Homo sapiens: one gene and its partners. The protein of the gene in region 3 interacts with the protein of the main gene of each other region in a pairwise test. Each region holds a gene or a part of one and is shown on either strand. Other genes may lie near its edges.

Region 1 (3,500 bases), on a different chromosome or scaffold from region 3:
GACATATTTAAGTTTTTGTAATTCCCTGAACATTCTGTGTCATCTTAGTCTTCCAGACCTTTGCTTATACTGCCTCCTCAGCCTAGAATGGTGTTCTTATGTTTCATTTGACTGTCTCCTTGTGTCCTTCTACACGTAGGTCAATCATTGCTAGGGAAATTTAGAGGTGGTAATAGCTAACCTGTTGAGCATTACTACAGTTCTTACATTTCTCTCTCCCACCTAGCTTGTGAACCTCTGGAAGGGCAGGAATGGATAGCTTTTATCTCTTTATACTTGGGAGAGAGTGCATACTGGGAGCCCACTGAATTATATTTTAACAAATCCCGTAATAGTTTTACAAGTTTGTTATTCAGCTGAGGAAGGATGTGTTTCCTCTCTTTGAATTCGTTACAGTTAAATGTGTTCCTACTTCCTAATAATCTTACCAGATGACAATAATAATTATGCCTCAGCTCTTCCATAAATGCTGAGTCTCCTGAAAGTATCAGGGACTCTAAAGGAGAGTAAATCTTAAATTCCTTTTAGGTAGGCCCAGTGTCTGTTCATTTCCACTTTGGCTTACATTGATTTCTTAGGTTTAGATTTAATACAGATGTGGTTGGATGATGTAGTAGAAATTGCCAGGCAGGTTGTGTGGGAAACCTGGATCCTATACCCCATTTTACCATAAATTTTAATATCGGGCAAGATATTTAACTTTTTGGGCTTCATAATCCACTTATTTCAGAAAGAACTATTGCCTTCATTACATGTATTCATCTTTCCATTCAATAAAGATTGGATTTCTACCGTGTGAGCCAGACACACATGTTGTCTGTCTCAGCATGTATACTCTAATTATTAGAGTCTGGAAATAAATTATATAGATTAATAAAACTGAAAAATTCTTGAAAGGTTAAAGTCCAAAGGAGGAAAAGCAAAAGCAAGAGACATTCAAGACATTTGGGTTTGCTGCTTGTACTTTTGATTGTTTTATTTATTTTTTATTTTTGTAAATGATAGGAAAGGCATTAAAACAATTGAATTGAGAAGTATTCTGTAGGATTAATTTACTCCCTTTTCCATCTGCTACCAAAGATAATGGGATAATGGCCCTGTAGAAGATTACCTGCGTTTTTCCAGAACCAGACAAAGGTTTAAGAGCTCTAAAGGAAAAAGTCAACCTTCATTGTTTGATTCCCACACTCACTCATGCCTGGCACTCTTCCAGGCACTGACTGTTACTGCAGCTGTGATTTCAACACAGAGCCAGTGCTCTTTCTGTCACATGGTAGCGTTGCCTTCAAATAACTGACGGTCATATCCGCCAGTGTTGTAATTTGGCTGGAATGCAGTATTTGCAATTTTATCAGCTTCATACAATTACAAGTCTTGCATACATAAAACAGCTGTGTGCTTTCCAGGTGTGCTTTGGGTGGTATAGTGGGACACCAAAGGAAAAGAAATACCATCATGAGTGCACCTCCTTCCCCGAGTTGAATTATCATCATGAAGGGTTCAGATTACAAACGTTATAGCTTTCCCACTTAATTTAGCATCTATTATTCCTGGCAGTGCCTTTTAAGATTACTAGTCAAGAGAAAAGATTTTCCTCATTTAGCTTAGCATTTTGTGAGCTGCCTTGGCACAGTTATAGTAAAAGCTTCAGTGGCTTTTTCAGTATAGTAAAAGCTTCACTGTATATAACAAACTTTGCTGGTACTTGGTATAAGGAGTAGATAAAGCCCTTCAGCTTGCTTACAGTGGCTTGCCATCAGTAGCACTGCCTTGCAGATACCCGTTTGACCTCATCTTCCTCCACTGACCCAGTTTTCTACTTCCAACTTTTCTAATACAGCTTGCAACCTCTGGCATAACTTCAGACCTTGGCCATTGGTCTCAACTGTTTGAAAACCTAAAGATTACTCACCCATCACGCTTAGTTTTGCAGCATGGTAGGGGGAATGGGAAGTAAATTCTTCTTAAAAAATTTTTTTATGTTGGGCTCGGCACGATGCTCACGCTTGTAATCCTAGCATTTTCAGAGGCCAAGGTGGGCACATCACTTGAGGTCAGGAGTTCAAGACCAGCCTGGCCAACATGGTGAAACCTCATCTCTACCAAAAAAAAAAAATACAAAAATTAGCCGGGTGTAGTGGTGCGCACCTGTAAACCCACCTACTTAGGAGGCTGAGGTGGGAGAATTGCTTGAACCCGGCAGGTGGAGGTTGCAGTGAGCTGTGATCGCCCCACTGCACCCCAGCCTGGGTGACAGAGCGAGACTCCGTCTCAAAAAAAAAAAAAAAAAAAGAAAAATCGTTTCTTTGTTTCTTGGATTTTAGATAGGGTGGGTGTATTATAAGATACCCAACTTAGAAAACCAAGGAGCTTGTAACACAAATAAATGGTTATTCATTCATGCATCAAATGGGAAAGTTGGCCATCTTTGAATATACTAAAATTATTACATGGAACTAGAACATCTTAAATTAGATTCTAAATTCCATGAGGGTAGGCACTCTCCCCCTGCCTCCCCTTCCTCCCACCCACCACACTTCACCTTTTTATTCCCAATAACTAGTATATAATGTCTGGCACATAGTAGGTCTTTAGTAAATATTTACTGAATGAATGAATGAATGGTCACAAGATGGTTTTTAAAAATTGTCTCCTGCAGAGAACCCACCACAGATGCCTTCTGTGTGATTTTTCAGTTTTATTCACATAGCAATTTTTATGTAACATAGTATTTAGTATATAGCTATGTAGAACAATCATAATATGTCCAGTTTTCAAAAGATTATTAACTTCTAAGGAAAAATTCTTTATCTCTAGGTTAATCTCTGGCTACTAGCTCAGTTTTTGGCACATTGTAAGCACTTAGTAAATGTTCGTTGGACTGAACCAACCCTATACAGAGACTTGATAACATTGTTCAGATGAAGATTACCATTGATTTTTTCTAAGTTCCTGGTAAAAGCATGTGATGGGAAGAAATATGATAGTATTTGAGAAAATAACTTTCCTAAGTTACTGTTGTCTTCTAGCACTGGACGGGTAGTCACAGGTTACAAATGAATAAGATTAATTTTGTTAGCTCCTGAAGGAAACAGAAAAACCTACTGTAAATCTCATCTCAGTATAAAAAGGGGCTTTAAAGAAGGATGTAATATTTGATGAGAAACTGCTCTCCACAAGGCACTTTGATATATGTCACGTTTTCCTTATAACCACCTACTATGATCTCTACTGTACAAATGAGAATTTAAGGTCAGGGAAGTTAAGTGCCTTGCCCAAAGTCACAGGACTGGTAAAGAAGGAGCAGATTCAGGATTCAAAGTTCAAGGCCTATGTTCTGTCTTGAAAAACCAGTGCTTTAAAAAACAAAACCAAAAAAAAAAACAGTGTTCCACTAGCCGAGGTTATAAATAAAATCTCTTCATCTTTGGAGAAAGTGTAACAGATGCTGCATGTTCCCTTCATCAGAAATGCCATAAAAGGGATTATAGGACACTGAA
Region 2 (3,500 bases), on a different chromosome or scaffold from region 3:
GTATTTTCAGATCTGTACTATGTGTTTACCTAGTTAAAAACCTGAGCCTGAGTTATCTCCTCTGGTCGTCTGCTCGAGTGAGGCGATGCTCCCAGGAAGGTTTGAGCAAGTTTCACCAGAATGGAAGTTCTAGGGCACAATCTCATCAACCGCTGACTTCATAGCACCAAAAACAATGTCTAGCACATAGCTAAAGTCAATAAATATTTATTGAAGAATCATGTTTCCATTTTTTCCTAAGTTTAATAATAACATAACGTTACTGTCACTTTCTCCTGTAGCTAGCAGTTTGGCCTAGAATACAACCTGTGGGCAGTACCTTTTATATATGCAATTCTGTACTCACTAAGTCTGTTCATATTATCAGTGTTTTATTAATATTAAACAGGAAAAAAAGAGAGAGAACTAAATAAACTATTCCTTTAAGTTACAATAAAAAATAGTGCTAAGGGCCATGCATGAAAAGATACATCTGTTAATTAACTCTGTTCTAAATCACAGCACATTTTATGTGTCAAACTTATATCTCAGGAATCATAAGCATTTAACAGTATTCTTTAATGGGGGCTATAAAAGCTTTGATCCAAGCTGTTGAAGAGATAAACCCTTAAATTGATACTCATTTAATGTTGAAATAGATACAAAGTCCTCCTTCAAATTGACATTGTAGAAACAAAAGATTAGGCCTTTAAAGTTTTATCATAATCACACTGTAAAATATGCATGACTGTTATAGTAGATAGTCCTTGGCTATAGCAAATTATATTCCTATGAAAGAACATTCTACATCTGCACTCTGATAAATTTTTTACCATTCTCTACTTACTCTCACTATCAATCTCTGGTTTTTCTCATATATACCCTTTTTTAATTTTAGTTTCTAAATTTTGGGTCCCATTGCACATTGCTTTGAGCAGGTGCTCTTATGAAGAAATTAATATCATTTCCAAACTACATCTGTCAGGTTTTAGGATTGCAATATGCTGATCTTAGTAGTTACTCAGTGCCTTGAAACTGAGTTGTTTTTAGGGATTAAAATTCACCACATTCTCTCTCAACAATGATCTTAAGGATTTCAGTAACTTCAATGCCTGTCATTTTGTTGGGTAATTTGTTTCTGGTGAGATCGCAAATTCTTTAAAAGGGGGAAAACTGCGCCTTTGATGTCTAGTCTGTGCATTTTTAATTAAACAAGGGAATCTACAGAAAGCTTCATACTCTTTTCCTTCATCTTTACTGACAGAATACAGCAGGTGATGCTGCACAGTCATAAAACAACGTTTGGAAACCCCAAACGTTGCTGTTCCCCTCCCTCCATCCCAATGGAGGGTTTTTAGAGAACTCACTTTGAAAGCAAACAAAAGAACCCTATGATTTCAAACAAACTCGTTAAGTCAAGGCATATGAACAAATACATTCTTACCAGGCTGTCCCTCTTCCTATTTGCCCTGCACTGTCCTCAATGGGATAGTGTGCCGTGGAGACAGAGGGTACAGGTGAAGGCTTTGTTAACAAGCCACTGGGATAGTGGTGGGGGAAGGGTGTCTGGGATGGTTAATTTTATGTGTCAACTTGGTGGGGTTGCAATACCCAGATATTTGGTCAAGCATTCTAGATGCTGCCATGAAAGTATTTCTTATATTAGATTAACATTTAAATCAGCAGACCTTGAATAAAGCAGCAGACCCTTCAGCATGTAGGTGAGTCTCATCTAATCAGTTGCAGGGTTTAATAAAAACAGACTGACTCCTCCTAAAGAAAAGGGGATTCTGCTAGTAGATCACCTTCAGACCCAAGCTGCAGCACCAACTCTACCCTAAGTCTCCAGGCTGCTGTCCTGCCCTGCAGATTTTTGACTTGCCAGCCTCTACAATCATGAGCCAATTTCTTAAAATCAATCAGTCAATCAATCTCTCTCTATATATATATATAGAGATTATGTGATGTACCCTCTCTATATATACATCTATATCTGTCTCTACATATGAGATATATATATTGAAACATATATAGATAATATATATTGAGAGACATAAGTATAGATGAATATAGACCTGTGAACACACACCACACACACACACACACACACACACACACACACCTATTAGTTCTATTTGTCTGGCAAACCCCAATCGATGCAGTGCCCCCCAGAGATGAGTGGCAGCAGACAGTGAGGAAGGAGAGCAGCCCTGGATCACACCTCTGTACACTGCACGCACATCGCCTCACTCCATCCTCTCAGCCAAGCCCCTTTCTTCCCACCTCCCTTTACCAAAAATAAAAAGGGCTCCCAAGTTGTTGGAGGGAGGGAGTGTCCCTGAGACCTCAGGAGAGCCAGTGGCAGAGGGCACCTGTTTAGGTAAACATATTTAATACCTGGACATGACTAGATCCCAGATGATCTTGGAAGCCACTTCTGGAAGTTTTAAATGCCTGTGCTGTTCCTGCCAATTGGGAAAAGAGTTCCTCTCTCAGAAGAGTGCTTACTCTTGATTTTTCCACTTCTACCCATGCTATGTAACCAGCAGGGATCTGTCGATAAGGATGGAAGAGTCTGAAGCTGGTTTGAGTTTTTATTTTTAAGAGGTTCTCATTTTATTTAAAAAAAAATCTGGCTTCTATAACTGAAAAATACTTCCATTGCAACACATTATCAAAAATGTGTTCTTTTCCTAGAGACCAGACTGCAGCCACCCCATGATGAGCTTGGGGCACACTGGCAGAAGAAGTCGGCTGTTTTTTCTCCCTGCACTGAGCTCAAACACAAGAGGGGGACTCGCTGGGTTACATCATGTCATAGCTGTAGCAGGTGGCCAAGGACCAGCCTGTTCCCCACTTTTGAGTAAAGAAGGTTACCACAGAAATGAGCCCAGCGCAACCTGAGAAGAGGCCTGGGTCTCGTTCTGATGATGGCAGAAAATGGTCCCCAGATACAGGGAGGGAAACTGACATTTCAAACGAACTTGTAAAGTCGAGGCCCAAAAACAAATAAATTCTTTGAAGAAGACTTTGGGATGCTCGAGGTGCGAGGCCATGATGCTCTCTCCACACCAGTGGGGTCTCTCTGAACCCCTCAGAACCGCCAAAGCCACACAATGTCCATACAATCCCATTTCCTTGAGTCTTGACGTGGTGCCTAGATAATGAAGTAGAGAAAATAGTTTGGGGAAAACTATGCATGTAATATATAAACTATTCTTGGAGGAAGCAGAACAACACAGAAAAGAAATATACACGAAAATATAGAAGGGCACAAAGAAAGAATTACAGACAATGTGGGGTTTGGGCCTACATATCCAAATCAATTTCCCTCATGAGTTTGTTTTTATAGAGAAAAATCTAGGCTCTGGCTATGGTTTGGATATGGTTGGCTTGTCTGTGCCAACTCTTATGTTGAAATGTGATCTCCAATGTTGGAGGTGGGGTCTAGTGGGAGGTGTGTGGGCCATGGGGGCAGATGCCTCATGAATGGCTTGGTGCCCTCCTTTTGGTAATGAGCA
Region 3 (3,500 bases):
GCCTCCTTCTCACCGAACCTGGATCAGGGCCAGGCTGGGTGGGTCAGGTCAGGCACCTGCCACCCCCACACTCCCAGCATGGTCCCCCCACCCCTAGCTTCCCAGCACCTACGGGGCACGGTTGGCGAGGTTCTGGATGACCTTGGCAATCAGTGTGAGGGTGCGGGCTGGGCCGGGTGCTGGATGGTCTGGTGCCAAACCAAAGAGGCTGGGTGCCAGGATGGCAGGGCACAGGAGCCGCAGGAAGAGGGAGGCGCACACCAGTCGGGGGCCCAGCACCTCAGAGCCACGTTCTTTACATGCTTCTCGCCAGCTTGAGAACACGATGCCCAGCTCCGCAGGGAACCAGCTGGTGCAGAAGAGGCAATGAATGGTCAGACGGGGAGGCTATGGGCATAAAGGTTAAAGTCATAAGGTTGGGAGTCCCAGAAGCACTGCATGATTGGTCCATGATCCTCCAGAGAGCTATTCATGAAGCCCATGCAGGCTTCCTTCTCACTGAACCTGGGGTCTGGGCTCTAGGATTGGGAATATCTGAGATAACAATGCTTGGGGTTATGAATCAGCATGGGGCCATGGCTTATGGTGTAGCTATGGCAATCGCTGGGGATAATACTCTTATAGTTGGGGATACAGGGTCACATGAAGACAGAGGTTATGAGCTTGGATGTACTTATAATTAGACATGAGACTGGTGGGCCAGAGTACAAGATATAAAGTAGGATTGGGGCTCTGGAGGTCACCTAGGGTCAGAAGTCACTTGATTGAAGTCAGGGATTAGGTATGCAGGTTAACCTAGGGTCAGAGGTCAAGGGATTGGAATCCCAGGTCTCCTGTGATCAGTTGCATGGGATTTGAGGTGGAGGGTCACTTAAAGCCAGGGATCATGGACTTGGGGCATCATCTGGTCATAGGATTGAGGTCCTATGTTAACTGGAGCCAGTGGCATGAAATTGGGGATATGGAATCAACTGTGGTTACAGGACAAGGAATTGGGTCTCAGGTTACTTGGGGTCAGTGGTGATAGGGTTGCATGGTGATAGGGTTGCCAGATGCAGCAAACGAAACTTCAGGACATCCAGTTAAACATGAATTTCAGATAACGGAGTGATTTTTATTTATATTTTTACTTTTATTTGGGACAGGGTCTCTGTCAACCAGGCTGGGGTGCTGTGGCATGATCATAGCTCACTGCAGCCTTGAATCCTGCGCTCAAGCGATCCTCCAGCCTCGGCTGGGAATACAGGTGTGTGCCACCATGCCTAGCTCATTTTTAAAAAGCTTTTTGGAGAGATGGAGTCTTGCTATGTTGCCCAGACTGGCCTTGAACTCCTGGGCTCAAGCAATCCTCTTGTCTCGGCCTCCTAAAGCATTGGGATTACGGGCGTGAGTCACCATGCCTGGTTCAAATGAGTAATTTTTTAGTATAAGCATGGTCCCAATTATTGCATCAAATTTAACTGAGTGTCTCCTGTATTTTATCTGGCCACCCTAAACTGGAGGTCGGGGCTAGCATGGTAAGCAGGGGTGGGCTAAGCTGCTGGGGCCCTGATTCTCACTCGTAGGAATGGATAATGGTTTCGAAGACCTCCTCGCAGCTGTTCCGAAGTCTGGCCTGGTGCTCTGGCAGCTCCGAGGCTGGACATTTGCTGGGGTCCACTTCACAGTCCTCAGTAGAAGCACAGAGACGCCGCACAACCTGTCCTGCAGCCCAGCACAGCCAGATAGGGGCTGGGGCCATGACCACCAAAACCTGCCACACCCATCCTCCAACCTTGTCTTCAGGTTATTCCGGAGGCACCCAACATCTTGGGGAGCTCCCAATTGTCCCCAGGATCCTAGCACCCCCAAAACACCACTCACTACCAGAATCCAGGTTGCTCAAGGACTCTTAGAACTTCACCCAGGTCCCCTAGCTCACCAGCAGGCCGCTGACATGGACTCTCCCCCAGCTCACCCAGGGTCTCCTGGAGGTAATCCTGTGCCACGAGCTTCATGTACTCATCGATAGCCTTGGTGGCCAATGTGTTTTCCCGGAACAGCAGCGCCTCACGGCCTCCACAGCGCGCCAGCTCCGCAGTGCCCAGGTCAGTCACCAGCGCCTAGGAAGGGCAGGAGGTCAGGTTGCACCAGATGCAGACAGAGTCCAAGGGAATTCGGATCCTTGGCTGGTCCCTCACACCAGAGGCACAGGCCCCGCCCCTTGTAGCTGATGCTTAGGCCCAGTCCTTACTGCTGGGGCTCATAACCGAGGCCGGAACCTCTAACCCTCACAGCAGAAATTTAAGCCTTTCAGCGCTGAGGTGCAACCTGGGCCCCGCCCCTCACGCGTGATGCTCAGGCCCCTGTCGCAGCTGAAGCTTAGGCTCCGCTCTTCAAGGTGTCCCGCCCCTTATGGGTGATAATTAGGCCCCGCCCCTCACAGCTGAAGCTCAGGCCCAGTCCTTCAAGGTGCCCCGCCCCTTACAGGTGCAGCTCAGCCCCAGCCCCTCACAGCTGACGCTCAGGTCCCGCCCTTCAAGGTGCCCCGCCCCTTACGGGTGATGTTCAGGCCCCGCCCTTCTAGGTGCCCCGCCCTTCTAGGTGCCCCGCCGCTTACAGGTGACACTTGGACCACGCCCCTCACACCCCTTCAAGGTGTCTCCCCCATTACAGGTGCAACTCAGGTCCTGCGCCCCAACTCCTGCCCGAAGCGCGTTATCGGTCTACCCCTGGTAGCCCCGGTCCGCGCTGTCGCGGTGCCGCACCTGCGCCCGGCCGGTGGCCCGCAGCACGCGCACCATGGCTGCCGCCAGCTCCTCCTTGGCCTGCGCAGGCAGCGCGGGCTCCAGGGCCCCGCAGAGGCGCGCATAGTGGAAGGTGAGGAACTCCGCCAGCTCCTTGTAGCGCTCGGACGGCAGCACGCGCAGGCGACGCGCCCGAATCCGCGCCCGCAGCGCTGCGCCCGCCGGCGCCCCGAGCAGCGGGAACCAGCGCTCCAGACCGGCGGCAGGCGCGCGTGGGGCGTCCAGCTCCTCCAGCGCCAGGGCCACGCGGCCCAGCACCGCGCTTCCCGGGCCCAAGCCGCGCAGCCGCAGCGACAGGCGACGTGCCGGTGGCAGCGCCTCGAAGTGGAAGCGCTCGGCCCAGAAGAGCTGGCCTGGGCCGGCCCGAGGCGCCGTGCGTGCCAGCAGCGCGCCATCCAGCCACAGCTCGGCGCGCACGCCGGGTGCCCCCGCCGCTGCTCGGGGAAGCCCCTTCGCTTCGTGCACCCACACGCTCAGCCATGTCTCTTCCCGCTCCACGTTGTCCTGCAGATGGGAGTGGGATGGGGGGAAGCGTTTTGGTTTGTTGGCACCCCAAAGAAGGCACCGCAAGTGAAGCGTGGAGCCTCAAACCTGTTGCGTCGGGTCCCTAGGGAGATTGCTGGGCCTTTGGGGAAAGAAGTGGAGCCACGGGAGTCCGGAGGCGGTTACGCGGAAGTCTTCTAGCTTTTCTGGGCTCTCCGGGAGAGTTGGGGG
Region 4 (3,500 bases), on a different chromosome or scaffold from region 3:
TATAATATGAAACTTATAGATGAGTTTGTAATCTTGAGAAGGAAAAGACGTGGAATCTTAAGAAAAAAAAGTTAGCTTTTGATTCGAAGATTAGTTGCTCAAATCCTAGTGAAACGTTCATCCCTGCTCATATTTTCTCCATGTTAGCCAAAATAAATTAGTAATTTATTCAGACATAGAGGCCACCAACTCTGCAATCATCTTTTTTTTTAAGTGTTTATATTTCTGGTTTTCATCCTTTGACATAGGAGAAGGTAGCAATAAAGAAAATAAAAAATTTAACTAGAAAGTAGAATCCTTAACACAACTGCTGATTGATCTGGGATCCGTTTTCATTTGTTTCCTTTCATTTTTGCATAGTTGTTTGTCTTAGTAAAGACAAGTAAAGGAATTGGATTAAAAATGTCAAAATAACAGGAAGTGAATACTCAGTGTTTGTATTTCTCAAAAGATCTGTCTTTCCAGTCCCTAAAACAGAAAATGGACGCCATGTGCAAGGAAAGCTGCAAAGAGTGGAAGACCAGATTAAACTCTTACATTTCTCAAAGCTTGCTTGGTTTTTATTTTGCCTCCCAATCATGTAATTATTGTCTTCAACTCTTTCCCAAGTAATTCCTGTAACGTCATATCTTAATTCTTCCTCAAAAACTCTATTTTTTCCTTGTTTTTCTTAAATATCTCATGATTTCCCAGATCTATACATTGCATTTAATTTATAAAAAAAGAGAAAAAGTACTAAGAATTGTGTGGACTCCTAAATTGAGTTTTATCATTTTTATCATTGCCTGATTTTCACACCTGTTAAATTTTCTTAAATTAGTAAATTTTCTTAAATTATAGCAAGCAGAGAATATATTGGTCCCAGTTGTTTCTAGAGGCCACCATCTTTAACATACTTCTCAGTATCAAAATAACATAAGTATGTAAATATGATAACATGAGAGCTATAGTAGAACCCAGAGAACACTGGTTCAGAAAATGTGAGGTAAATTCTCTTCCTTGATAAGGTCGTTCAAACTCATATGTGTTCCCCCTTTCAACAAGGAGATAAATACAATGCCTGAAATGTATTCTATGGTTGCTATGAAGATATTTTTGAACCGTTTATATTCTGGAGTATTAAACCTGTGCTGTCTTAAATGGTAGTCACCTATCAGATGTAGTTAGGGAACGCTTGAAATGAGGGTCGCCTGAATTGTGATGTTCGGTGAGTACTAATTAAACACAGCATGAAACGTAAAAATGTAAACTATCTCATTAATAACTTCATACTAATTACATTTTGAAGTGATATTTTTGAAAGATTGGATTAAATCAAAAATATTATTAAAATTAATTTCACATGTTCATTTTTTAACTTTTTAAATGTAGCTACTTTAAATTGCAAATGTTGCTTGAATTATATTTCTATTGGACAAAATAGCTGTAGAGCATCCAATAGACTTTAAGAGCTTCTCTTTTTCCACAGAGAATTTTACAGAAATAGAAAACTGCATTCTGATTTTTTTCAAACATGTTCAGAATGTTTTGGCAATATTGCTGTCTCTAACACCTAGAGGTTTCCTAAATACAGGAAATTAAGATAATTACTAATAATATTACTTGCAAATATATGCTTGAAAAACATATTCTACTGATAATAAAAATGCATACCAAAGTAGCCTGCTATTCAAAGGTAAGTGAATGTGACATTCTCATTCTCTTCCACATGGCCACATAATACAGAAGAGGTGATGTTGCAATAATCATACAAAAATAAAATGAATATCATTTTAAAAATTGGATATGTTTGCTGAGCATTCTTATCTAAGCTTTGAGACATCCCATTAAAATATATTTAAAGCTGTTTAGACAACATGGGAAAAAATAATTATTAATTTTAAAAATGTATGTCATTGTTAAAACAGCAGTTGTAAATAAAAACCTAAAAATAATATTAATTCATGTGTTCTTAACATTATTAATACATATAATTTTATTTTTATCCAAAATTTTGGCAAAATGATAAACACATAAAAAAATTATGGGCTTGTAATCTGCTGTATTTGAAGGCTTCTTTGTCTTGCTTTGATCACTGGCTGAAGATTGCTCTTTAATACAGTCTGTAGGACTGATCAAAATGTTACATAAGCAGAGAGAAAAGTAAATGAGATCACTGACAACACTGTAGAGTCTTGGCATGGGAATGGGTATTAACATTTATATAATGAAACCAATTATGTTAATAGGTTAGGAGAAGTTGAATATGTTTTCAGGGACAAGAAAAATTTTCATGTCCAAAGTATTTCATATATAGTGTCGTTACAACATCCTCACCTCTCAGTTCCTATTAATTCCAATAATATGACCTCACCCACTCACTGGCTGGTTATGCACCTAGATCCCATTACCATACTAGCATTTCTTTCCATATCAATGATAAGCACCTCTCTGATTACCCTTTACTATTGTCCCCATAACTCTCTTTTTTGACCTAGCTATGGCCTCCTGTCAATGGACTGTATTGTTTTTTCTCTCTTCCTCATCGGCTTCACATCCACTCTCTCCTCCCTATTCTGTGCTCCAGTTTTAACAAATTGCTCTGAGCAAGCTTGGCATTCTCTTGACCCTACTTGCTTAGAAACTCTAATGTCAGTGAATCACAGCTGTCTTCCTGCTCCATGTCTGCACCTACACTCTTGATCAGGCTTTGAGAAAACACACCCATTGCTATCTGGTCTCACTTCAGTTTCTTGACTCTGAACCTCATATGGGCTTTAATGTAGCCAAGCCAACTCTACCATAGGGAAATTAATATTTTTCCCTGATTAAATCACAAACATTCTACTGAATAATCCCATACATTAGCTATCTTCAAAATTTTCATATCTTATTCAGCTCTGCCTTATCTGTTGAGATTGCGGGGGTTTTTCTATTTCACTTACAAAAGATATGTAATTATAAGACAACTGCCATCCACTGGTTCCATCATATCTATGTGTCTAATGGATACCCATATGTTATTCTGTCTGTTTTTATAGAGAATTACTCCACGTTCTTAACACCAAACTTCCCATTTGTATGCTCTATCTAATTTCCTCTAATCCGCTCCAGGACATGGCCTCCTCAAATATACTCCTCTCCTGTTTAACTAGTTTGTACCTCTCTCTAGATTAGATTATTCCCATTAGCAAATGCACATGCTATAATACCCTCAACATAAAAAAAAAAAAAAAGATTTTGATCCCAACCCAGCAGCCATTCCATATCTTTGGCATTTTCTAAAATAAAAATTATTTTAAAGACACTTTCATTTATCTCATTTTCTCTTGAAGTCGCAGTATCATTTTCAACTCTAGTTTGCCACAAAAACAGGAAATCAGTGACTTCTACATTGCAAATCTAATGGTCAATTCCAGGCCTGAAATTCCTGTTTTACTTGGCCAACCAGAAGCCCTGTATGTGATTGTCCATTTCATCATTCCCTTTCTTGGCTTCTGAGGGCATCCTCTCTCATGGTT
Region 5 (3,500 bases), on a different chromosome or scaffold from region 3:
AACGACTCACACTTGTAATCCCAGCACTTTGGGAGGGCAAGGTGGGTGGATTGCTTGAGCCCAGAAGTTCAAGACCAGCCTGGGCAACATGGCAAAACTCCATTTCTACTAAAAATAAAAAAATTAAAAAAAATTAGCTGGGTGTGGTGGCTTGTGCCTATAGTCCCAGCTACTCAGGAGCCTGGGGTGGGAGGAACACCTCAGCTTGGGAGGTTGAGGCTACCTACAGTGAGCTGTGATCACACCACTGCACTCCAGCCTGGGCGACAGAGTGAGACCCTGCCTTAAAAAAAAAAAAAAATTCTTTGCTGGCTAATGATGAAAAGGGGAAAGAGTTCTGGAAAGATGTCAAAAGAACATGTTTGTAAACAAACACGGATGAAATCTTAGGTAAGAAGAAAAAACCTCTAAGAAACATGCCTTGATAAGTCATAGGCAGGATGCAGTGAATCATCTTGCTACTATACACAGGTGTGGGATATACAAAGGTCATATTCATAGGCGCATCAGCAATGGCACTTTCCAAACTTTCTCAAGTGACAAAAAAGCCTTCACAGTAAGCTGACTAGCAGCTATTGAATTCAAAAACTTAGCAAAACTTTTTATGCTTTATGTCTTTAACCATATGTAAAATACAAAATCTCACCCTATTTCTCCATTTGAAATTTCTTCAGACACTTTCTAAGCATACCATCTTTCCAGGCCTTTTAGCATTGTGTAGTCAAAGATGAATAAGACACACTCTCTACCCTGATATCATAATTTAAGAGAGAAAAAAGACACACTGAGAAATAACTAGATACAGGATGAGGATTAAATAATAAAAGCATGAACAAAATGTTGATAAAACAGAAATGGAAGCACGTGTGGAAATCACAAAAGGGGTGGCATGAACTTTAATGGATGAATGGAAGTCTATCAGGTCAAAAAAGAAACAAGAAAAGACATCAAGGCAAAGTGAATAATATAAACAAAGACATGAAGGCATAAAATCTATGTTAGGTTTGAGAAACAAGGACAAGTTCAATGTGGCTGAAGCATGAGTACTGGGGTGAGGTGGTGAGGGCAGGAAATGAGACTTTGGGAGAATCATTTAATTAACATTATTATTCCTATGAGAAAATATGCAGAACAGAAACAAAAAGAAAAATCACCTTATGTCTTTGATAGTTGCTCGTTTCAGTGGGTCAACCTGCAGCATATGCATCAGGAGAGTGGCGACAGAACGATTGAGATATTCTGGGATATAAAAGACACCCCCTCGGATCTTCTTAAATAACGTAGGTACATGCTCATCATCAAATGGGAGGGTGCCACAAAGAAGAGCATACAAGATAACACCACAGCTCCAGATATCAACTTCAGGACCTGCATACAATCTAAGAAAAAAGATGACAACACAAACCTGAAATGCAAGAATCACTTTTTCTCTATGTACCCTACTTCTATATATAGGTAGTCTACATTCAGTACATATTCATTTCCAAGGTCTTTAATGAAGTCCATGGCTGCTCCCCAATATTCAGTGTTTGTTCCCCAAAGAGAGTAATGGGGCTAGCCAACTACTATTCAAGCCTGCCAAGTGAATAGGGTATTTTTATTTGTCACAAATTCATTTAACTGAAACATACGAATTAAAACATATAATACTTTCTGTGGTTGATTTTTGAGGGAAACAAAGTAGATGACCACAAACTTGAAAAAATACTATGGTGTATAGGTTAAATCTTTTTCCCAAAGAACTATTACAAGAAAGAAAACATATATATAATGTATACATATAATAGAATTTCTACCCCTGGCACACCTTTAAAGAATATTAAGGCTGGTCACGGTAGCTCACACCTGTAATCCTAGTACTTTGGGAGGCTGAGGCGGGCGGATTGCTTGAGGCTACGAGTTTGAGGCCAGCCTGGGCAACATGGTGAAACGCTGTTTCTACTAAAAATACAAAAAATAGCCAGGGATGGTGGTGCACATCTTAGTCCCAGCTACTCAGAAGGCTGAGGTGGGAGGATCATCTGAGCCCAGGAGGTGGTACAGTGAGCTGAGATTGTGCCACTGCACTCTAGCCTAGGTGACAGAGCGAGACTCTATCTCAAAACAAAAAATATATATATATATATATATAATATATCATATATATAGAGAGAGAGATATTTAAAACATTAAAGTACTTAATTAGTACTGTGTAGACAGTATTTATCCTGTATCACATTATCCTGAGTACTTACTATTTCTATTCTCATCACTTCCTAACTCATATGACTAAAATCATCTTTGATCCAGATAACCTATGCTTATAGTATTATTCCTTTTTTCTCTTACGTTTCTACAGCATTACAATTCCCATGATAGCATATTACCATACTCAAACCTGGGTCTGAGGTAACAAAGTAAATCTTTACTATTCTAATGAAAAGAATATAATCTGTTTATATAAAAAATGGTGATTGTTTACATCATTTGCTGTATTGTTCAAACTCCTTGCAATGGACTGAATGCTTATGTCCTCTCAAAATTCATGTGTTGAAATCCTAACCCCCAAGGAGATAGTATTAGGAGGTGGGGACTTAAGGGGGGTGATTAGGTCACTAGTGCAGAGTTCTCATGAATGGGATTAGTGCCCTTATAAGAGCGACCCCAGAGAGATCCCTTGTCCCTTTCACCATGTGAAGTTACAGTGAGCATACAGTAGTCTATTAGGAAGCAGACCCTCACCAGATACCAAATCTTGATCTTGGACTTCCCAGACTTCAGAACTGTGAGAAATACATTTCTGTTGTTTATAAGCTATCACCTTTATTGTATCTTTCTTATAGCAGCCCAAATGGACTAAGATAATTCTTTATCTGCTATTTGCAATAATACTTTAACCATATTTTCTCTTATAGGATTCTGTTAACTTTTAAAATCACACGTTGATCACTGTAGAAAGACTTGAGTTTACCACTGCAATCTGTATAAACATTTTTATAATGTACCAATGAATAAGTTATGAGTAACTACACAATCTCTACTTGTGTAATTTCATGAAACAATATTTTCCCCCAAAATCTCATTTTTCCAAACACAAAATATAAAACAATGCTCTATATACTTTGGAAAATATGCAAGGTATTATTAAAGAACTATATCTAATAAATAAATGACACTAGCTTAAATTTAGCAAATTCTTACTCTCTTATCTGCACTTTTGTAAAATGAAAGATATGTTAAATCAGGATCTACTTCAGTTATTTTTCTAATGGGGAAAACTTCGTAAGTATATTTATAATGACATCTAAATGAAATGTTTAACATTTTTTGATATAACCATTATCCCTTTAACAGTGGAAAAATAAATGAATAATCCATTTCTACCATGTTAAAATCTTACCTTCCATAGAGAATATATTGTAATTAAATGTTATCAAAATGAACACAAGATTACAAAAAGCTTATGCTTCACTGATTATTACCTGCCTGAGATGACTTCAGGTGCTGCATAATTTGGAGAT
Region 6 (3,500 bases), on a different chromosome or scaffold from region 3:
TGGAGTCTGCAATTCAAGAGAGGATTAGAATGACCTAGATATTCTCCAAGGTTTCTCTGTATGTGAAGGTTATTACTCCATTAATTCAGGAGGATCTAAAGATTTTAGACCTAGAGACTAAATATGCCAAATCAGTCTGAGGTCTCACATTGCTACAGGATGGACGGCTCTTCATGCACTACAGATTTCAAATGGGGTCTTCTCATACTCATTCAGCTACTGCTCTAGGGTTACATGAAAGAAATCAAGTCTAATCCTTTTCCCTAACAAGCTCAAGGCTGGAACAGACAAAAAGGTAAGTAAACAACTGCTACAGAATGGGACAGCTGCTACATCAGAGAGTAAAAGTTGAGTGCTGTGAGAACACAGGAAAGAACAACTCAATCTGCTGGGGGAGTCTGACGAGGCTTTACAACGGTGATGTTTGGGTGAGGTCTTAAAGGATAAATAGGATCCTTTTTTTGGTTGTTTTTGAGACAGAGTGTCACTCCATCGCCCAGGCTGGAGTGTAATAGCATGGTATCAGCTCACTACAACCTCTGCCTCCCGAGTTCAAGCAATTCTCATCCCTCAGCCTCCCAAGTTATTGGGACTACAGGCGCACACCACCACACCTGACTAATAAGGCTGAATAGGATTCTAAGTGAAAGGACATTCCAGAAAGAAGGAACTACAAATGTGCAAGCCTGTGGTTTGCTTCACAACAAGCTGAATGTAGCCAGAGCACTGGGCGTGTGATGAACTGTGATGCTGGATATACAGGAAGGCTCCAGAGGGTAGGGAATCTTGATTGCTGAGCCCACTATTCTGGATTTCATCATGTGGTAGGGAAGCAAGAAAGACTGTAAATCCAAGGAGTTATCGCTGTCAGATCTGTACTTTAGAAAGATCATGCAGGTAGCTGTGTGAACAACTTGAAGGGTAGAGAAACTAGAGACAGGAACAAGAAGTAAGAGTATATTATAAAGGTTTAAGTAAAAGAAAATAAGCACCTGGAAAATAGGAGTACAAAAGGTAAAATTCAAAAGACTTTTCTGAGTTGGAAGAAATAGAACTTGGTCAAGTTGTAGCTAGCATGGGAGATAAAAGAGAAATCAAGAATGAAACCAAGGTTTTTTAGCTAACTTGGTAAGTAGTGATGCCATTAATTGACTCAGGAGAAGGGTTAGGAGGAAAATGTTCAGAATGCGGAGAATAATAAATAAAAGCAATAAATTTGGCTTTGGATTAGCTGCATGTGAACCACCTGTATTAATTCCCAAACACAGGCCAGGTGCAGTGGCTCACGCCTGTAATCCCAGCACACTGGGAGGCCAAGGCGGCCGGATCACTTGAGCTCAGGAATTTGAGACCAGCCTGGGCAACATGGTGAAACCCTGTCTCTACATAAAATACAAAACTTAGCTGGGCATGGTGGCATACTTCTGTAGTCCTAGCTACTTGGGAGGCTGAAGCAGGAGGATCACTTGAGCCCAGGAAGCAGAGGTTGCAGTAAGTTGAAATTGCACCATTGCACTCCAGCCAGGGTAACAGAGCAAGACCCTGTCTCAAAAACAAACAAACAAACAAAAAGCACAAGCACTATCTAAAAGACAATGATTTTCCAAGTATGATTCCCCAGACAGCAGCGCAGCATCACCAGGCAACTTGTCAGAAATGCAAATTCTCTAGTCTTACTCCCAAGCCACTAAAATCAGAGACTCTGTGGGTAAGGTCCAGCAATCACTGCTTTTACAAGCTTTCCGAGAGATTTAGCAGGGTCACAATTAAAAGCAGTAAGAAATAGAAACAAAAATCACAGGTGGAGGTGCTAAGTCTGAGGGTGGAATCGGGACCCCTCTTTCTCTGGGACAGACAAGAAGTTAATATAAAGGTACTAGGACATTTTTATGTGGTGAGGGGAGGAAGCTGAGGGAGTTTGTGCCTAGTGGCCTCTACTCTGTTTTTGAAACAGGATCTGCTACTGACAGCATCAGGCATGCAGTGGAAACCCTGAGGAGATCATTCATGTTCTCGGCTAAAATTTTCTCTCTTTGATTGAACACAGTCACTGAAAGCAATGTGTAATTTCTAATTCTCTGAGTTCACTACAAATGACAGCAAAGGAGTCACTCAACAAATATTGGCTGACTGGATGAAAAAAAAAAAACAAACAACTAGCTAGAGGAGTTGGCAGAATTCCATTTGACTTTCTTCTGTTGAAGCAGTTTTAGAATTCTAGAATGCTCTGGCAAAGAATTAACATTATTCATGGCATTTTATTAGTTCCTATGCTCACTAGCCATCCCATCATTTATTTATTTATTTATTTATTTTTTTTTGAGACAGAGTCTCACTCTGTCTCCCAAGCTGGAGTGCAGTGGCATGATCTCAGCTCACTGCAACCTCCGATACCTGGGTTCAAGCAATTCTCCTGCCTCAGTCTCCCAAGTAGCTGGGATAACAAATGCGTACCACCATGCCCGGCTAACTTTTTTAATATTTTTAGTAGAGAGGGGGTTTCACCATGTTGGTCAGGCTGGTCTCGAACTCCTGACCTCAGATGATCCTCCTGCCTCACCCTCCCAAAGTGCTAGGATTACAGGCGTGAGCCACTGCGCCCGGCCCATCGTTTAATTTTTAACATCATTATATTTCCGGATAATACCAAATGCTAACCTAATTTTTAAATATAAGTTAAATTTCTACAATGCAATGACTATGTATACAAGTCAACAGATTTCTACTACTGTGTTTTATCACTGAGCTAGATGCCATGCTAAATATATATTAAAAGAATGAGGGAAATAATGCTTGATGAGTGCCATTTCCAAGCCCTGCAGTGGGTACGTCAAATTTATTAGCTCATTTAATCTTCACCAGGAAATATGCCTATCTCCATTCTTCCACTCCAAGGAGCTTATTGTCTACATTTGAGAACTAAAACTAACACAACCCAAAGAAAATAATCAGAAGACAAACACAAAATGAAGAAACTACTGAAAGCTGTTCATTAAAAGCTGACTGAGAAGAAGAGAGGAAAACATCCTTTTCCTTAATATTAAACTGACTTGCTGATAGCTCAAAGCAGAAGTGAAAAAATGTATTTAGACGGTGACAGAACTATGTATCCAGTCACGTCACTGTTCAACCGCCCCTAGTTAAGTCCTTTTACCGCTCCGCCAGCTCCCAGTCCTCCTGAATCTGCTTCTGCCTGGCTTTGTGGTACTCTTCCCTCCAGCACTTGGAGCAGAAACCCTGCCAGGCAGGGTTGCCGTAGTAACCACATCCTTTCTTGCACAGGAGATCCGATTGATCCACATGAATTCCTCGGCGTTCAGACTTAAGGCTCATCTTCTTCCTGCTAACCACTGAACAAACAAGAAAGTGCTGTTGAAAATGAATTATCATTCTACTAAATAAAATCTTACCAATTATGAACAAAAAGTGAGTGATTCCATTATCTTCAAGCTGTTAAGAGAGGGATGGAGGGAATGAAGGAGGGAGGGAGAAAGAGGAGG
Region 7 (3,500 bases), on a different chromosome or scaffold from region 3:
CATTTACACACTAATGCTTCTAGCAGCACTATGAGGTAGACCAAGCTTGTCTAACCTGCAGCCTATGGGCTGCATGTGGCCCAAGACAGCTTTAAATGCAGCCCAACACAAATTTGTAAACTTTCTTAAAACATTATGAAATTTTTTTGTGATTTTTTTTTTTTTTAGCTTATCAGCAATCGTTAGTGTTAGTGTATTTTATGTGTGGCCCAAGACAATTCTTCTTCCAGTGTGGCCCAGGGAAGCCAAAAGATTGGACACCCTGGAGTTAGATACTCCAGTTATCTCCATTTTATAAAAGAGCAGAGTGAGGTTGCCGAGGGGAGGGGCTGAGATTGGAACCAGGCGCTTACCTGCTCCTGCCTGCATTGCTCTCCTGCCTGCATTGCTCTCCTGCCTCTGATGTTCTCTGTTCTCCACAATATCCTGCAGCAGTTTACCTGGTTCCCATTCACTTCTCTGGGAACTTCTTGAGGGTGAGAACTTATCTTTTTCATCTTTGCATCTGCAGTTCAGCAGCACAGTCTTTCACATAGAATAGATAATGTGTGGTTCAAAAAAACTGATATGGGACTGGGCACAGTGGCTCACACCCATAATCCCAGCACTTTGGGAGGCAGAGGCAGGGAGATCACTTGAGGCCAGGAGTTCGAGACCAGCCTGGTCAACATGGTGAAACCCCATCTCTACTAAAAATACAAAAATTAGCTGGGTGTGGTGGCGCGCCTGTAATCCCAGCTACTCGGGAGGCTGAGGTGGGAAAATCACTCGAACCCCGGAGGTGGAGGTTGCAGTGAGCTGGGATTGTGCCACTGTGCTCCAGCCTGGGTGACAGAGAGAGACTCTGTCTCAAAACAACAACAACAACAAACCTGTAATATGAATTAGAAGATGTTAAGAGAGAAACAGAATTTGGATAAGGCGGAGATTCTGGCAGGGGGTGGGAGAAGATAAAAAATTGATTCGTGGGAAGAAAGCCTTTAGCTGGAGCTTGTGTGGTAGAAAGAGGTAGAGAAGGTTGCTGCAGATGGAGGGGAATGACATGAGCAGACCCATTGGGAGGCAGTGGTGGACTGTTTGGGGGCGTGGAGGATAGGATGTATCTGGGGAAGTCCAGAGAATAGGCATTCATTTTTGAATCTTTCTGTTTTGCTAAGACAGACTTAGAGCCAAAGGCAGCACTCAGGCTTTTAAAGGCACAGCATCCCTAGTCTTAAGTATTGTTCTTACCTCAGGATTTATACAGGGCTCAAGTAGAATGATATTTGAGAAAGAAAGTGCCTTTTAAACTCTAAGATATTGTAGAAATATAAGTTGGTATTACTAATGTTGCTAGGTTGCTTTGATTTCACAGTGCTGTTCTCTATGAGAGCGTTTTTCTTTGGAAGAACTCAGAGCACCACATTGCTCATGTCCCTTGATCACCTCCCTGAAATCCCTTTCAGCTCATCGCTGGTGTTGGGCAGTACCTTGAGTCTGAGAGTGAGGGTGAGAATTAACATCCACACTGTGACAGAGCTGTGTGGGAAAAGCTGTCTTTTTCTTTCTCCCTTAGTGGCTACAGATGAAAGCTTGGCTAACTTCTTTTTTTAAAAAATAGTTTTTCCTTTCTTTTAATTGCAAAAGTGGTTCCAAACTAGAAATTAAAGTCCTCCTTCTCCTCTCCAGGCTGACCCCCAGAAGCCTCCTTTGTTACTAGTTTGGAGCAGATCCTTGCAGACGTTTTCCTCTGCATTCACATGCATGCAAATGTACTTCTGAATGCGCACGTATGTCTTTATATACAGATAGCTTTTAACAAATAGCAGGTGGGGCCGGCACTGTGGCTCACACCTGTAATTCCAGGACTTTGGGAGGCTGAGGCGGGGGGATCACTTGAGGCCAGAAGTTGGAGACCAGCCTGGCCAACATGGTGAAACACCATCTCTACTAAAAATACAAAAATTAGCTGGGCGTGGTGGCGGGTGTCTGTAGTCCCAGCTACTCAGGAGGCTGAGGCAGGAGAATCGCTTGAACCCAGGAGGCGGAGGTTGCAGTGAGCTGAGATTATGCCACTGCACGCCAGCCTGGGTGATAGAGCAAGACTCTGTCTCAATTAAAAAAAATATGTGGGGCCAGGCACCGTGGCTCACACCTGTAATCCTAGCACTTTTGGAGACTGAGGCGGGTGGATCGCCTGAGGTCAGGGGTTCAAGACCAGCCTTGCCAGCATGATGAAACCCTATCTCTACTAAAAATACAAAAAATTAGCTGGGCATCGTGGTGCGCGCTTGTAATCCCAGCTACTCGGGAGGCTGAGGCAAGAGAATTGCTTGAACCCGGCAGGTGGAGGTTGCAGTGAGCTGAGATCATGCCACTGCACTCCAACCTGGGTGACGAGAGTAAGACTCCATCTCAAAAAAAAAAAAAAAAAAAAAGTTTCCTAGAGGTAAAATTGCAGTTTCAGAGGATGTGCATTTAATGACTATGAACATTTCCATTATTTAACCATTTCCCTATCTGTGGACATTTAGTCTGTTTTCATGTTTTCAGGGTGTTGTGTTTGCTTTATTCTATTTTGCTATTATAAGGAGGGCTGTAGCAGTCCTATATCCTTTTTAGTGATAAGGTATGTGTCTGAATACTGGGATTTCATCATTATGAAGTAACTTGGTTAACTTCAGCAACTTTTACTTTTAGGATTACCATGTTGTTTTGCTTCATGTTTCAAGTGGAGGACAGAACTTCATTTATGATCTCGATACTGTCTTGCCATTTCCCTGCCTCTTTGACACTTATGTAGAAGATGCCTTTAAGTCTGATGATGACATTCACCCACAGTTTAGGAGGTGAGGACATTCAAGATGGATTTACTTATTTTCTGAAGTAAGAATTTGACGATTCCACAGAGGTTCTTTTTTTTTTTGACAATTGTTTTGTAAAGATCTCGTCTGACATCACCATTGAGTTGATGTTTAAGAATGATGTATTTGCAACACAGGAGATTCAAAATGTTTTAAAGCTTTAAAAGTTATCTATCATATGAAAGGTTGTCATTCTTTTAAAATTTTGTGTGATGAGATCTCAGACATTTAATTTCAAGCGGGTTGGGGATTTTTCTTATATTCTTTTTGTTTTTGTGGGGATACCTCGTGCTGTCACCATTGAGAGGGCTGTGAGGGCAGCATCAGAAAATCATGCCCATTGCCCTTGATACACAAATCGAGTAAATCGAGGCAACCAGATATATTTTTGTGCCTTTGCCTTTCTGTTTCGGGGTTTGGTTGATCATTTCCTATGCTTCTCTAATAGGTAGTAAAGTTGCCTGTATTACTAACCATACAGAAATGCATGAGTAGTTTTGTGCATGTCATAGGAAATGAGTCGATATAAAAATGGAGTTAGAATTTCAAACATGACATCTCCCTAATGTGAGTGTATATTGATTTTTCTGCAGGAAATTTAGAGTGATCCGTGCAGATTCATATTTGAAGAACTTTGCTTCTGACCGATCTCACATG

Evidence for each region.
Region 1: the proteins of RASAL3 (region 3) and KHDRBS3 interact in binary tests that used the Homo sapiens proteins (3 or more experiments, as listed by UniProt).
Region 2: the proteins of RASAL3 (region 3) and MTUS2 interact in binary tests that used the Homo sapiens proteins (3 or more experiments, as listed by UniProt).
Region 4: the proteins of RASAL3 (region 3) and CCDC102B interact in binary tests that used the Homo sapiens proteins (3 or more experiments, as listed by UniProt).
Region 5: the proteins of RASAL3 (region 3) and PRKAA2 interact in binary tests that used the Homo sapiens proteins (3 or more experiments, as listed by UniProt).
Region 6: the proteins of RASAL3 (region 3) and RABGEF1 interact in binary tests that used the Homo sapiens proteins (3 or more experiments, as listed by UniProt).
Region 7: the proteins of RASAL3 (region 3) and NTAQ1 interact in binary tests that used the Homo sapiens proteins (3 or more experiments, as listed by UniProt).

The regions. Positions count from the first base shown.
Region 1 is NC_000008.11:135,582,956-135,586,455, forward strand, and holds part of KHDRBS3 (KH domain-containing, RNA-binding, signal transduction-associated protein 3), read left to right. Parts: intron 1-3,500. UniProt on the Homo sapiens protein: RNA-binding protein that plays a role in the regulation of alternative splicing and influences mRNA splice site selection and exon inclusion. Binds preferentially to the 5'-[AU]UAAA-3' motif in vitro.
Region 2 is NC_000013.11:29,029,839-29,033,338, reverse strand, and holds part of MTUS2 (microtubule-associated tumor suppressor candidate 2), read right to left. Parts: intron 1-3,500. UniProt on the Homo sapiens protein: Binds microtubules. Together with MAPRE1 may target the microtubule depolymerase KIF2C to the plus-end of microtubules. May regulate the dynamics of microtubules at their growing distal tip.
Region 3 is NC_000019.10:15,454,545-15,458,044, forward strand, and holds part of RASAL3 (RAS protein activator like-3), read right to left. Parts: intron 3,291-3,500; coding exon 2,748-3,290; intron 2,103-2,747; coding exon 1,958-2,102; intron 1,705-1,957; coding exon 1,560-1,704; coding exon of another isoform or gene 1,556-1,559; exon of another isoform or gene 1,365-1,555; coding exon of another isoform or gene 1,305-1,364; exon of another isoform or gene 1,094-1,304; intron 388-1,093; coding exon of another isoform or gene 350-387; coding exon 113-349; intron 19-112; coding exon 1-18. UniProt on the Homo sapiens protein: Functions as a Ras GTPase-activating protein. Plays an important role in the expansion and functions of natural killer T (NKT) cells in the liver by negatively regulating RAS activity and the down-stream ERK signaling pathway.
Region 4 is NC_000018.10:68,804,580-68,808,079, reverse strand, and holds part of CCDC102B (coiled-coil domain-containing protein 102B), read right to left. Parts: intron 1-3,500. UniProt on the Homo sapiens protein: During interphase, forms fibers at the proximal ends of centrioles to maintain centrosome cohesion. During mitosis, dissociates from the centrosome following phosphorylation to allow centrosome separation. Contributes to CROCC/rootletin filament formation.
Region 5 is NC_000001.11:56,693,814-56,697,313, reverse strand, and holds part of PRKAA2 (5'-AMP-activated protein kinase catalytic subunit alpha-2), read right to left. Parts: coding exon 3,462-3,500; intron 1,380-3,461; coding exon 1,155-1,379; intron 1-1,154. UniProt on the Homo sapiens protein: Catalytic subunit of AMP-activated protein kinase (AMPK), an energy sensor protein kinase that plays a key role in regulating cellular energy metabolism.
Region 6 is NC_000007.14:66,771,733-66,775,232, reverse strand, and holds part of RABGEF1 (rab5 GDP/GTP exchange factor), read right to left. Parts: intron 3,351-3,500; coding exon of another isoform or gene 3,334-3,350; coding exon 3,155-3,333; intron 1,543-3,154; coding exon of another isoform or gene 1,406-1,542; intron 7-1,405; coding exon 1-6. UniProt on the Homo sapiens protein: Rab effector protein acting as linker between gamma-adaptin, RAB4A or RAB5A. Involved in endocytic membrane fusion and membrane trafficking of recycling endosomes. Stimulates nucleotide exchange on RAB5A. Can act as a ubiquitin ligase.
Region 7 is NC_000008.11:123,433,774-123,437,273, forward strand, and holds part of NTAQ1 (protein N-terminal glutamine amidohydrolase), read left to right. Parts: intron 1-1,668; exon of another isoform or gene 1,669-1,739; coding exon of another isoform or gene 1,740-1,769; intron 1,770-2,679; coding exon 2,680-2,828; intron 2,829-3,436; coding exon 3,437-3,500. UniProt on the Homo sapiens protein: Mediates the side-chain deamidation of N-terminal glutamine residues to glutamate, an important step in N-end rule pathway of protein degradation.